Regions from separate parts of the Homo sapiens genome. Here region 2 is linked to region 1. Evidence: fine-mapped expression QTL. A gene starts in region 1. The other region holds a variant in brackets. All regions are shown on one strand. Distances are from middle to middle.

What was found. PIP is the estimated chance that this variant, and not a neighbour inherited with it, causes the effect.
Region 2: its variant is the best candidate, but not a certain one, in a credible set for the expression of LMBRD1 in whole blood (TOPMed, PIP 0.88).

What each region holds. Positions count from the first base shown.
Region 1 is chr6:69,794,791-69,800,035 of GRCh38, forward strand. LMBRD1 (LMBR1 domain containing 1) reads right to left here and starts at 2,220. Exons shown (of 16, transcript NM_018368.4): 1 at 2,023-2,220. The coding sequence starts at 2,091. RefSeq lists enhancers at 1,171-1,727, 1,552-1,601, 1,728-2,283, 1,912-2,141.
Region 2 is chr6:69,771,758-69,777,002 of GRCh38, forward strand. The region is part of intron 3 of LMBRD1 (LMBR1 domain containing 1); the gene reads right to left. Among named protein-coding and RNA genes, the nearest start is that of LMBRD1, 23 kb to the right of the region's middle. The variant G/A (reference allele first, on the strand shown) is at 2,379.

The DNA of each region.
Region 1 (5,245 bases):
ATTTAAAAGATGTGCATAACTCAGTAAACCAACATTTTCTAAGTGGCCATGGCATCATGTTATAAAACCATGCATGGGTAAAAGAGCCTTTCAAAGTGCAAGATGGGCTAATGGATTTTAATGTAACAATGAATGAAATGCTCATTGATAGGGTTTCAGATTCCACCTTGCAGCTGACATGAATCTTCCACTTGTTGAGCTTTGGTGTAGTGTCAAAAAACATCCACAATTATCTGAAAAACGCTCCTCTGTTTCTGACTACCTATCATTGCAGCTGTATTTTCTCCATACACTTCGACTAAAATAACATACCCCAAAAGACTGAATGTAGAAGGCAACAAAAGAAACCAGCCTTTCTTCTAATAAACCAGGATTTAAAGAGATTTGCAGAAATTTAAACAAAAGTCCTTCTTCCTAATGCTTTTATCCACGACAACATTCAATTCTGATTTTATTTGTCCTTGCTGTAATATTGCCAACTTAAATGGCCTCTCTTCTTCATCTATCCAAACTCTACCACAATTCTCATTTTCTTCCAATATTGTTGTCTATTCTCTTAAGTCCTGCTTTATTTATAGTCACACTTTGGCTTTCGGTCCATAAAATACATGTTTCAAGAATTTCAGTTTTCTCACTTATCTTCAGGCCCTCTTTAAAGCCGTATTTTGTTTGGTTTACATCCTCTTACAATTCACACCACTTCTGTACCGTAAATGTTTATTAATTTATAACTGCCAAGATAGTCTCACGTAACTTTCATACATTACATGCTTATTTATTTTTTTCTAAACAAACTAAATCTGATGGACTGGAAAAGCCAGGGGGCTCTCCAAATACAGGACTGGGTGGCTGCAGAGACCACAGTCAACCTTTAGGGTTTCATTTCCTCCAAGAGAGGACTAACATGTTCCAGGGTAAAGGCAGTGTTTTTATCTGTGACAGTGATGGCAGTAACAAGAGGATCCTTTTCTTAAATTTTCACACCATTCTTTTCTTTTATTTTCTTTTTTTAGTCTCTACTGCAAAAATCTACTAGAACATACTACATAGGTACCAGACACCAACTGGATCTGACAATTAAAGTAAAACCAAACAAGCCTGATTTCCAGAACTGGAGGTTTTTGTTTTGCAATGCAAAAAGGTCAAAATACGTGAGAACAGAAAGTAACTACAGCCTCGGACGATGAGAAAAGAGAAGATTTGAGAAGGTAGAGAAGTTATGAAAGGAAATAAATTGAACTCCCAAATAAACCAAAGGGTTTTAATATGAACAGGGAAGTAATAGCCAGGCCACTCTGAGACATTTCTATCTACACTTTGCTCACTGAATATGCAGAAATAAGATCGTTGGAAAAGAAAGCACCTGAGGTCAGACAGGTAGTAGTATATACTCCGATACTGGTAATAAAGAGGGCTACAGCTCCGCCCTCCACAGGTATCTACACCAATCAAAAAAAGATTAGAAGAGAATGTGACACCTGGAAGTCAGAACGAGCAACTCACGTCATCAAGGCAGAATCACACAATGGGCACAGAGGTTGGAGACTCACTAGCCCCAAGGGTAGGGAAAATGAGGGAAAAAACATACAGAGAAGGTGACAAGTAAACAACGCCAGCGCCTACTTAACTTGCAAAGATCCAGCGCTGCCGCCCCACACCGTGTGACAATGTTTTACAGGGGACGAAAGGCCACCACATACTTCTCAACCCCGAGGGTCTCTTCCGCCCCCAAACCCCACCGGCCCCATTGCCCAAGTCAGCGATGACGGCAAGAGCTTCCAAAAAGGACCCTGCAACCCTAGACGTCATCGGTGAAATGACAGCAAAAGAGACCGGAAATCGACACCCCCCTGCCCCCGCCGCCCGCCCAAGCCCCCAACACTAAGGAGCCCTCCACAGTCCAAGCTAAAAGCGGGGCGGGGCGAAGAGGGTCTCCGGGGCCCGGAGAGGCCAACTGCAGGGCCTGCCCCTCCCTTCCTCCCCCAGTCCAAACATGGGGAAAACTCCAAGCGCCTCCCCTACCAGTAGTAAGAGGCCGAATATGCACCAGCCGATCACCAGCTCCGCCGAGGCCGCGCCAGAAGTCGCCATCTTCGCTTCCGGTCCAGACCAACCTGAGCGCCCGGGGTGGGGAAAGGGGAGGGGGAAAGGGGAGAGAGCGCGAGATATACTGCACCCGCGCACCCTAAAGGTTAAAGGGGCGGAGGGGGAGGAGCAAGTGGTTGCCAAGGAGACTGGACCCACTAGCGTCCCCTGGCGGCGAGCCGAGCGGGGGCGGGGCAGCAAGGACTGCTCAGGGGCGGGGCGCGTGCGGACGCAGTGACATCACCACGCTGCCCTCGCTGGCTTCCCTGCAAGCTGAGATGTGGGAGGGCTGCAGAGCAGGGTGTTGGCTCATAGCTGGGCAACCTATTGAGATATTTGACTCAGCCTAAGTTGATAGACTAGAACAGCAAGGGAACTCCACAAAGAATGGGCTAGGTGGACCTGGAGATCCAAGTCAATTTTAGAGGTTTATACTTCTTCACCAAAAGGAAGTTTGGCCCTCGTGTACAAGGTGGAATGTGTGTGATTAGCAGAACTCCTTACCAGGTTGCAAGAATGGCTGATGTCAGGCCTCTGAGCCCAAGCTAAGCCATCATATCCCCAGTGACCTTCACGTATACATCCAGCTGGCCTGAAGCAACTGAAGATCCACAGAAGTGAAAATAGCTTAGCTGATGACATTCCACCATTGTGATTTGTTTCTGCCCCACCCTAACTGATCAATGTTCTTTATAATCTCCCCCACCCTTAAGAAGTTTCTTTGTAATTCTCCCCACCCTTGAGAATGTACTTTGTGAGATCTACCCCCTACCCCCAAAACATTGCTCTTCACTCCACCTCCTATCCGAAAAACTGTAAGAACCAATGATAATCCCACCACCCTTTGCCGACTCTCTTTTCGGACTCAGCCCGCCTGCACCCATGTGAAATAAACAGCCATGTTGCTCACACAAAGCCTGTTTGGTGGTCTCTTCACACGGACGCATGAGACAGCTGACTCTGAATAAAAGTTGACTAGCTGCCCAAATCACTCTAATTTACTGGCACTGGTGCCCAGCCGGGATAACTGGTTGGCTGGACATGAACTTATCACATGATGTTATAGCCTTTCTATTCAGATGTATGCATGCCTGTGAATTTCCATGATAGCTTTGTATGTAAAGGTATATGCATCAGCAAACAAAACACACTGCCATAGGCCCACAATGAAGAAGAAGGAGGAAACTCTTGGGATGGCTTACCTGAGTCCACAGGGAGGAAACTCTTGGGATGGCTTACCTGAGTCCACAGGGGTGTGAGTGCATGTTTCACCACTGTGATGTAGTCAAGAAACAACTCTGAGAAAAAATACCATCATCTTTTTCCAATGTATTATGTGGTGATGAGTTATGCTCTACCTATAATCTACTTCCGGCTGGAAGCCTGAGGGAAAAAATAGGATGGTCCTTCCTGCCTGGACAGAATAAGAAGGGAATAGGGGAGAATACAGTTTTAACTTGAACTGGTACCATCATAAGCTGGCTTTAAGCCCTCTAGACCTGCAAATGTTTGAATTTCACTCTTTCTTCCTAATAATTCATATCCCTGGAGACCTCTGTCATAGCTTCCTTAAAGTGAAGAGAGGTATCGCTTCCAGGTTGATATCTCTATTCCAGATTGTATAGAGCACCCTTGACATAAGTAACTACTTCTTAGAAAAAGATTCTGTTTACATTTCAAAAGGAATCATGCCAAAAGGGACCAGATGTTCACCTAATCAATAGAGACTGCACCCAACCAGATAACGACATAACCAGGCACACTCTTTTATTATTATTATTATTATTATTATTATTATTATTATACTTTAAGTTCTAGGGTACATGTGCACAACGTGCAGATTTGTTACATATGCATACATGTGCCATGTTGAGGTGCTGCACCCATTAACTAGTCTTACATCAGGTATATCTCCTAATGCTATCCCTCCCCACTTTCCCCCACCCTACAACAGGGCCCAGTGTGTGATGTTCCCCTTCCTGTGTCCAAGTGTTCTCATTGTTCAATTCCCACCTATGAGTGAGAACATGTGGTGTTTGGTTTTCTGTCCTTGCAATAGTTTGCTGAGAATGATGTTTTCCAGCTTCATCCATGTCCCTACAAAGAACATGAACTCATCCTTTTTTATGGCTGCATAGTATTCCATGGTGTATATGTGCCACATTTTCTTAATCCAGTCTATCACTGATGGACATTTCAGTTGGTTCCAAGTATTTGCTATTGCAGGCACACTCTTTACTATCAGTCAACACCAGAGGACTCTGAGGCTATAAAAAGAGTAGAACTTCAACAGCTCAAGATAGCCATCTTAACAGACACTGTCTTACTGTCACTCATGATCAGCATCTAGCATCTGCCACCAAAGGTTCTGCTCAAATCAAAGACTCTTCCTTGCAAAATGTTGATATGCATCCTGATCAGCCGAGGACACTCTCCTTGTCCATGTTGCTCTCCTTGGATTGGTTAATCCTGTTTTCCTAACCTTTCTCTTGATGTTAAATGTTATTTTCTTTTAGAATGTTTAGCCTATAATATTTATATGTTATGTATACTACTATGTTTGGTTTGCAATATTGACTGACTTGTGGAGTGGCTAGAGCTTTGTGTCCTTGGTTCTGACTACCAAATGAATGGGTACTACTAAGGAAAATTACCTCCTTCGGACCTTCATACAGCTCATGGCTTTTATGATTGAAATAGCATCAACAAAAGTCTGACTGTGGAAAGACACAAACTTGCAGGGACTTGAGCCACTGACAGGTAGTCACTTATATCTCCTCCACAAGCCCCAGAGCATACTGAGGTATACTTAATTATTCCTTTTCCTGCTGAGGTCTTGTAATCTTCTTCTAGAAGCTCATTTAAGTTGGAGGAGAGGCCTAAGACAACCCCAAGCCAGTTCTTCCCCTTTCCCCAAATAGTCTAAATCCCCTCTGTAGGAATGATGATACATACCTTGCACCAACAACTTTGGGAGCACAGGCCAATCCCAATGTAGCTCCATTCTCCTAGTTCTACAATCAAAGGAATCAGCCCTTTTTGATTATACCCAAGAAAGTCAGCCCCTGATGCTACAGTCCACTGTAGTTCTCTCTACTGGGTCAGACACTAGCCCTCTGTGTCCTCAATTTCAGGGGCCATATTTCAAATTCTCCAAGTA
Region 2 (5,245 bases), 23 kb before region 1:
TCATATTTTTAAAGAATCACTCTGACTGCTATATTGTCAGTAAAACAAGGGTGGAAAAGACAGACTTCTGTGATAACCCCAAAAGAGACAATGGTGTCTTAGACAGGATTATAGCTAGAAAAAAAAAAGGTAGTGAGAAGTGGTCAGATTCTAGATAAATTTTGAAAATCAAGCACAAGGGAATTTTCTGCCATATTTGACTCAAAATGTGAAAAAGTAAAGATTCAAGGATGACTCTAAGGTTTTCAGCCTGAGAAACTCTATCCTTCTTGTTGCTATCCACAAGAAAAAAAACCTACTGTATGACAGATTAAAGGTCAGTTGCTTTAGAAATGTTAAATTTGAGATGTCTTTGATTTTTTGGTAGAGTTCTGTAACGGTTGGACATAGGATTGTGAAGTTCCAGAGAGGTCTGCACAAAGATTCGAAACTGGGAATTGGGCATATAGGTGATATTTAGAAGGAAGCAATGGTATAAAATCACCAAAGGATTAACTGAAACAGAACAGGTTCAAGGATTAACCCGTGGGACATACAAATATTTTAAAAGGTCAGAAGAAAGAGAACGAACCAACAAAGGAAACTCAAAAGGCACAACCAAGAACATAAGAAGAAAAAACAAGAACATATGTCTCAATCTCCAAAATCTGGAGTGTGAAGGAAGGTTTATGATATTAATGTGACAAATCATCAGTTCATTTAGAGACAAAAAGTACAAGTCACACTAGTTATAAGTCCAAGAGATCACTTGCTTTCTTAGTATTTCCAACTGGAAACAAATTCTTACGCTACTAGGTCTCTAGAGATTATCTAGATAATCTCTTGAGCAAACTTAACAGAAACCACTTAGAAAACATCCCCTTTAATTAAGAATACTTTCTTTTAAAAAGGGGGAAAAGGGGCAGGAGACAGGACAGAACTGTATCTTATCAAACAAGATTTTGTAAAAAGGATTTTGAATCAAACAAATCTAAAAATTAGTCTCAGTCTTTCTATCTTGTCTGGAAAAGCACTGAAATATATTATTAGAGATGTTTTCAAAACAATAGTGTCAAGAAAATTGAAATTTGATGAGATACTAGTCAGTTCTTTCAATATTAACTTTCCTATATCATTGCACTAACAGAGAAAATTTCTCTTGTTCTCTTATCTGATTTGAATAAACAGCAGTAAATAACACCTATTTAGCACTAATCACATGTCTCACACTCCTAACCTTACGAAGTAGGTACTACTTTATCACCATTTCACAGGTGGAGAAATCACAAAGAAGTCAACTTCAAAGGTCTCATGTACTCTTCTCAAGTTAGATTCTAGGAGTTGTAAACCCTACTATGATTTGAATGTGTCCCTCAAAGTTCATGATCACTACCCAATATGGTAGTTTTGGGAGGTAGGGCCTAATGGGAGGTATTTGGGTAGCAAGGGTGACTGCTCATGTGTGGATTAATGTCACTATCATCTGAGTGGGTTCATTATAAAAGGATGTGTGTGCCTCCATTGCCCTTCTGCCATGGGATGACAGCAGGAAGGCCCTTACCAAATGCCAGTTCCTTCATCTTGAACTTCCCAGCCTCCAGAACTATGAGCCAATAAATTTCTGTTCCTTACAAATTACCAAGTTTTGAGTATTCTACTTTAACAGCACAAAACACACTAAGATAAACCTAAGTTCAAAATACATAAAAAAGTTTCCAGATACAAATTATCAGCACCTAATCAATAGGGAATGAAGAGAAACTTCCAAAAAACTCTCTTAGGTGCTCTAAAAGTATGGCATAGAAACTGGAACTGAAAAGCTTCCCGGTCCATCTTATTCTCCCTTAGTTCCATAACTTAATTCATCTAAATATGTGTATACTTTGACTCACTCCTATTTTTACTACAAAATTGTTTTAACAGCAAAAAAAAATTTTATTAAACACCTAATAAACTGGGATTTTTCTATGAACATCCATACAATGGAAAACAATGCAGTAAAAATCTTTTAAATGTACATATATAATATCTTCTTAACAGCTGCATTTGAAAAGACCAAATATTGTCAACAACCCCATTTTTCATCAACACTAGCATGGATAAACTACGGTATGTTAATATAGTAATAAGAATCAACAGAGTACTGTTGCCTGCATCAATATAGATGTTTCAAATATAATGTTACACACTGAAGAAGCCAAACACAAAACATTATGAACTATATGATTCAATTTACATCTACACACAAGATGATAGCCTGAAAACTAGTGTCAAGAGAAGAAAGTCTATGTGGATGATATGGTTTGGCTCTGCGTCCCCACTTAAATCTCATCTTGAATTGTAATAATCCCCATGTGTCATGGGAGGGACCCAGTGGAAAGTAATGGAATCATGGGGAC[G/A]GGTATTTCCCATGCTGTTCTCATGACAGTGATTAAGTCTCACGAGATCTGATGGTTTTACATAAAGGGGAGTTCCCCTGCACATGCTCTTGCCTGCCACCATGTTAGATGTGACTTTGCTCCTCCTCGCCTTCCACCATGATTATGAAGCCTCCCCAGCCATGTGGAACTGTGAGCCCATTAAACCTCTTTTTCTTTATAAATTACCCAGTCTTGGGTATGTCTTTATCAGCAGTGGGAGAACAGGCTAATAACATGAGGAATTGATAGGCCAGTTACAGAAGAACTGAACAAAAATAGCCTCAAATAATTCCTGCTTAGGGTTTGGGATAGTTTTAATTCATTTACCCCCGCCTTTCATTAATTTCTTTTACATGAATTTCCTTTTACTTAATGTTTTTTCTCACTTCTTACTTTTGCATGCATGCAGGGGTTGTAGAAATAGGGAGAGGCCAAATATAAAGATAAAAATAAATTTGAAATAAAAACAAATTAGATAAAAGGCTAAAACACAGACAACATAAGGGATAAAAGGACTGCAAAGCAGGCTTAAATATGAAATTAAACAGAACTCAGAAGTCACTGCTAAGCCTGCATAGCAGGTCTAAATACAAAATTAAACAAAACTCAGAACTCAAAACTCACACGAGGGCAGTTTTATAAAAGAAAAGAGTAGGCTGAGTGTGGTGGCTTATGCCTGTAATCCCAACCCTTTGAGAGGCCAAGGTGGGAGTACTGCTTGAGCCCAAGGAGTTCAAGTTTACAATGAGCTATGATCACGCCACCGCACTCCTGCCCAAAATACAGTGAGATGGAAGGAAGGAAGGAAGGAAGGAAGGAAGGAAGGAAGGAAGGGAGGGAGGGAGGGAGGGAGGGAGGGAGGGAGGGAGGGAGGGAGGGAAGGAAGGAAAAGATGAAGAACTAAATAAAACATTCAAAAGAAATAAAAGGTACAAATCCTTAAAGTTTCTGGGGCGGGCATAACCTTCCCAGATGAGGGAGTCACCTGATCAGAGTCCTTAGGTGTGCAGGGAATAGGATGAAAATGAACAACTTTACCCTCTCATACTTCAACAAGCTCCAGAAAACTGAATCTGCTTTGTAAGTAGCTTCAGTTAATGAGGATTATTAATAACTAATCAACAGCTGGGGAGTGCTCACAAGGAGAAGCAGCAGGCAGCCTGATTTCTGCCAGCTTCTCAGAACAAAACACCCCAAATTCCATTAATATAACAGAAGATCCTTAAAAATGTGGTTTCCAGACCCTAGGATTTGCAGAGATCCTCTCAGGGTATTCACAACATCAAAACTGTTTGCATAATGATACTAAGATATTATGTGCCTTTCCACTATGTTTACAGTTAAACTAATGGTGCAAAAACAACAGTGGATAAAACTGCTGCCCCTTTACAGGAATCAAGATAGTAGACTCAAATTACACTAGAAGTCATTGTATTCTTCAGGGAGGAGGGAGATTTGAGCCTTTTATTCACAAAAGTCCCTTTTGAAGCAGTAAAAATTCTAGTGTCCACATTTGCATATATATCCTTTTAATATTCTGTGTGACAGGAAATACACATAAACCATGCTGTACTTGTGTCTCACAACATCTCAATTTTGTCTGCGCTCTTTGAGTTGTGAGCTACAGTAGCCACTTTTTTTTCAAAGAACATCATTTTTACTTGAAAGAACAACTGACAGATAAGCAATGGTTATCCAGACTTGATTATTAGACAGGCTTTCTCAAAAATGAACAGTGAGACTATCACTCCAAAGGAAATAAGTGACAGTATTTGTCACCAATGATAAAACTGAAGCTTTCAAGAGAAAATTAGAATGTTGGAAAACTTGAATCTATCTTTGAGTTTTACAGCATCTCAATATATACTTTTCTGATAAGAATAATGGCAATATTAACAAATGTGGTTTTTTCAATGTATAATGATATGTGTCAACATTCAGAAGACCTATATTATTCACTGAACAAATATTTTCCAAATGAATAAGGCATAATGTCAACTGTCTTATTTGGCATTTGACAAATGGACAAAAGATCCATTCAAAGTGCAAATGGGCCAATAGATTTCAATGTCATGGAGTATGAAAAAGCAGTGAGACTATAAATTTGAATCAGTAGTTTAAAAGTAGTTAACACTCCTAAACAATTTCATTGAGGAAGATGACTAAAACTTCTTTAGGAGTTTTAAGAGTTTAAACCTTTTTGATCAGTTTCTCCTCTATGGAAAACTAGCATCTAAACTAGCACCTAAACTGGTACCTAAGAAAACTTGACACATACAGAAAAAACCCTGCATTAGTAACTCTATGAAGGAAAATATGTATACAGTTTACTCAAAGTTATCATGAATTAGGCATCTAAACATTAATCTTAATATTCTAGAAAAGAGATTATCACATGATTTGTTAACAGAAAGCTCTTCTTTTGAAAACACACATGGAACCCGAACATAAAAGACAATTAAAGCATAAGTAGGTCCCATGGAGTCAATGCTTAGCCGCCTTATCCCTCAAACCTTTATCTCATTGCACATGCACGAGACATCTTTAGAAAAGCCACTGACTTAGGCCACTGGTTTCTAAACTTGGCTGTGCTAAAATCAGAATCAGTACCATTAGCTTTTTAGTAATAGATTCACAGGCTGCCTAACACAACAAAGTAAATTAGAATCTCTCGGGATACAATCTACCATTCTGTATTATTTAAAATGTCCCCAGTGGGCAGGTGCAGTGGCTCACGTCTGTAATCCCAGCACTTTGAGACGGGCAGATCGCTTGAGGTCAGGAGTTCGAGACTAGTATGACCAACATGGCAAAACCCCATCTCTACTAAAAAATACAAAAATTAA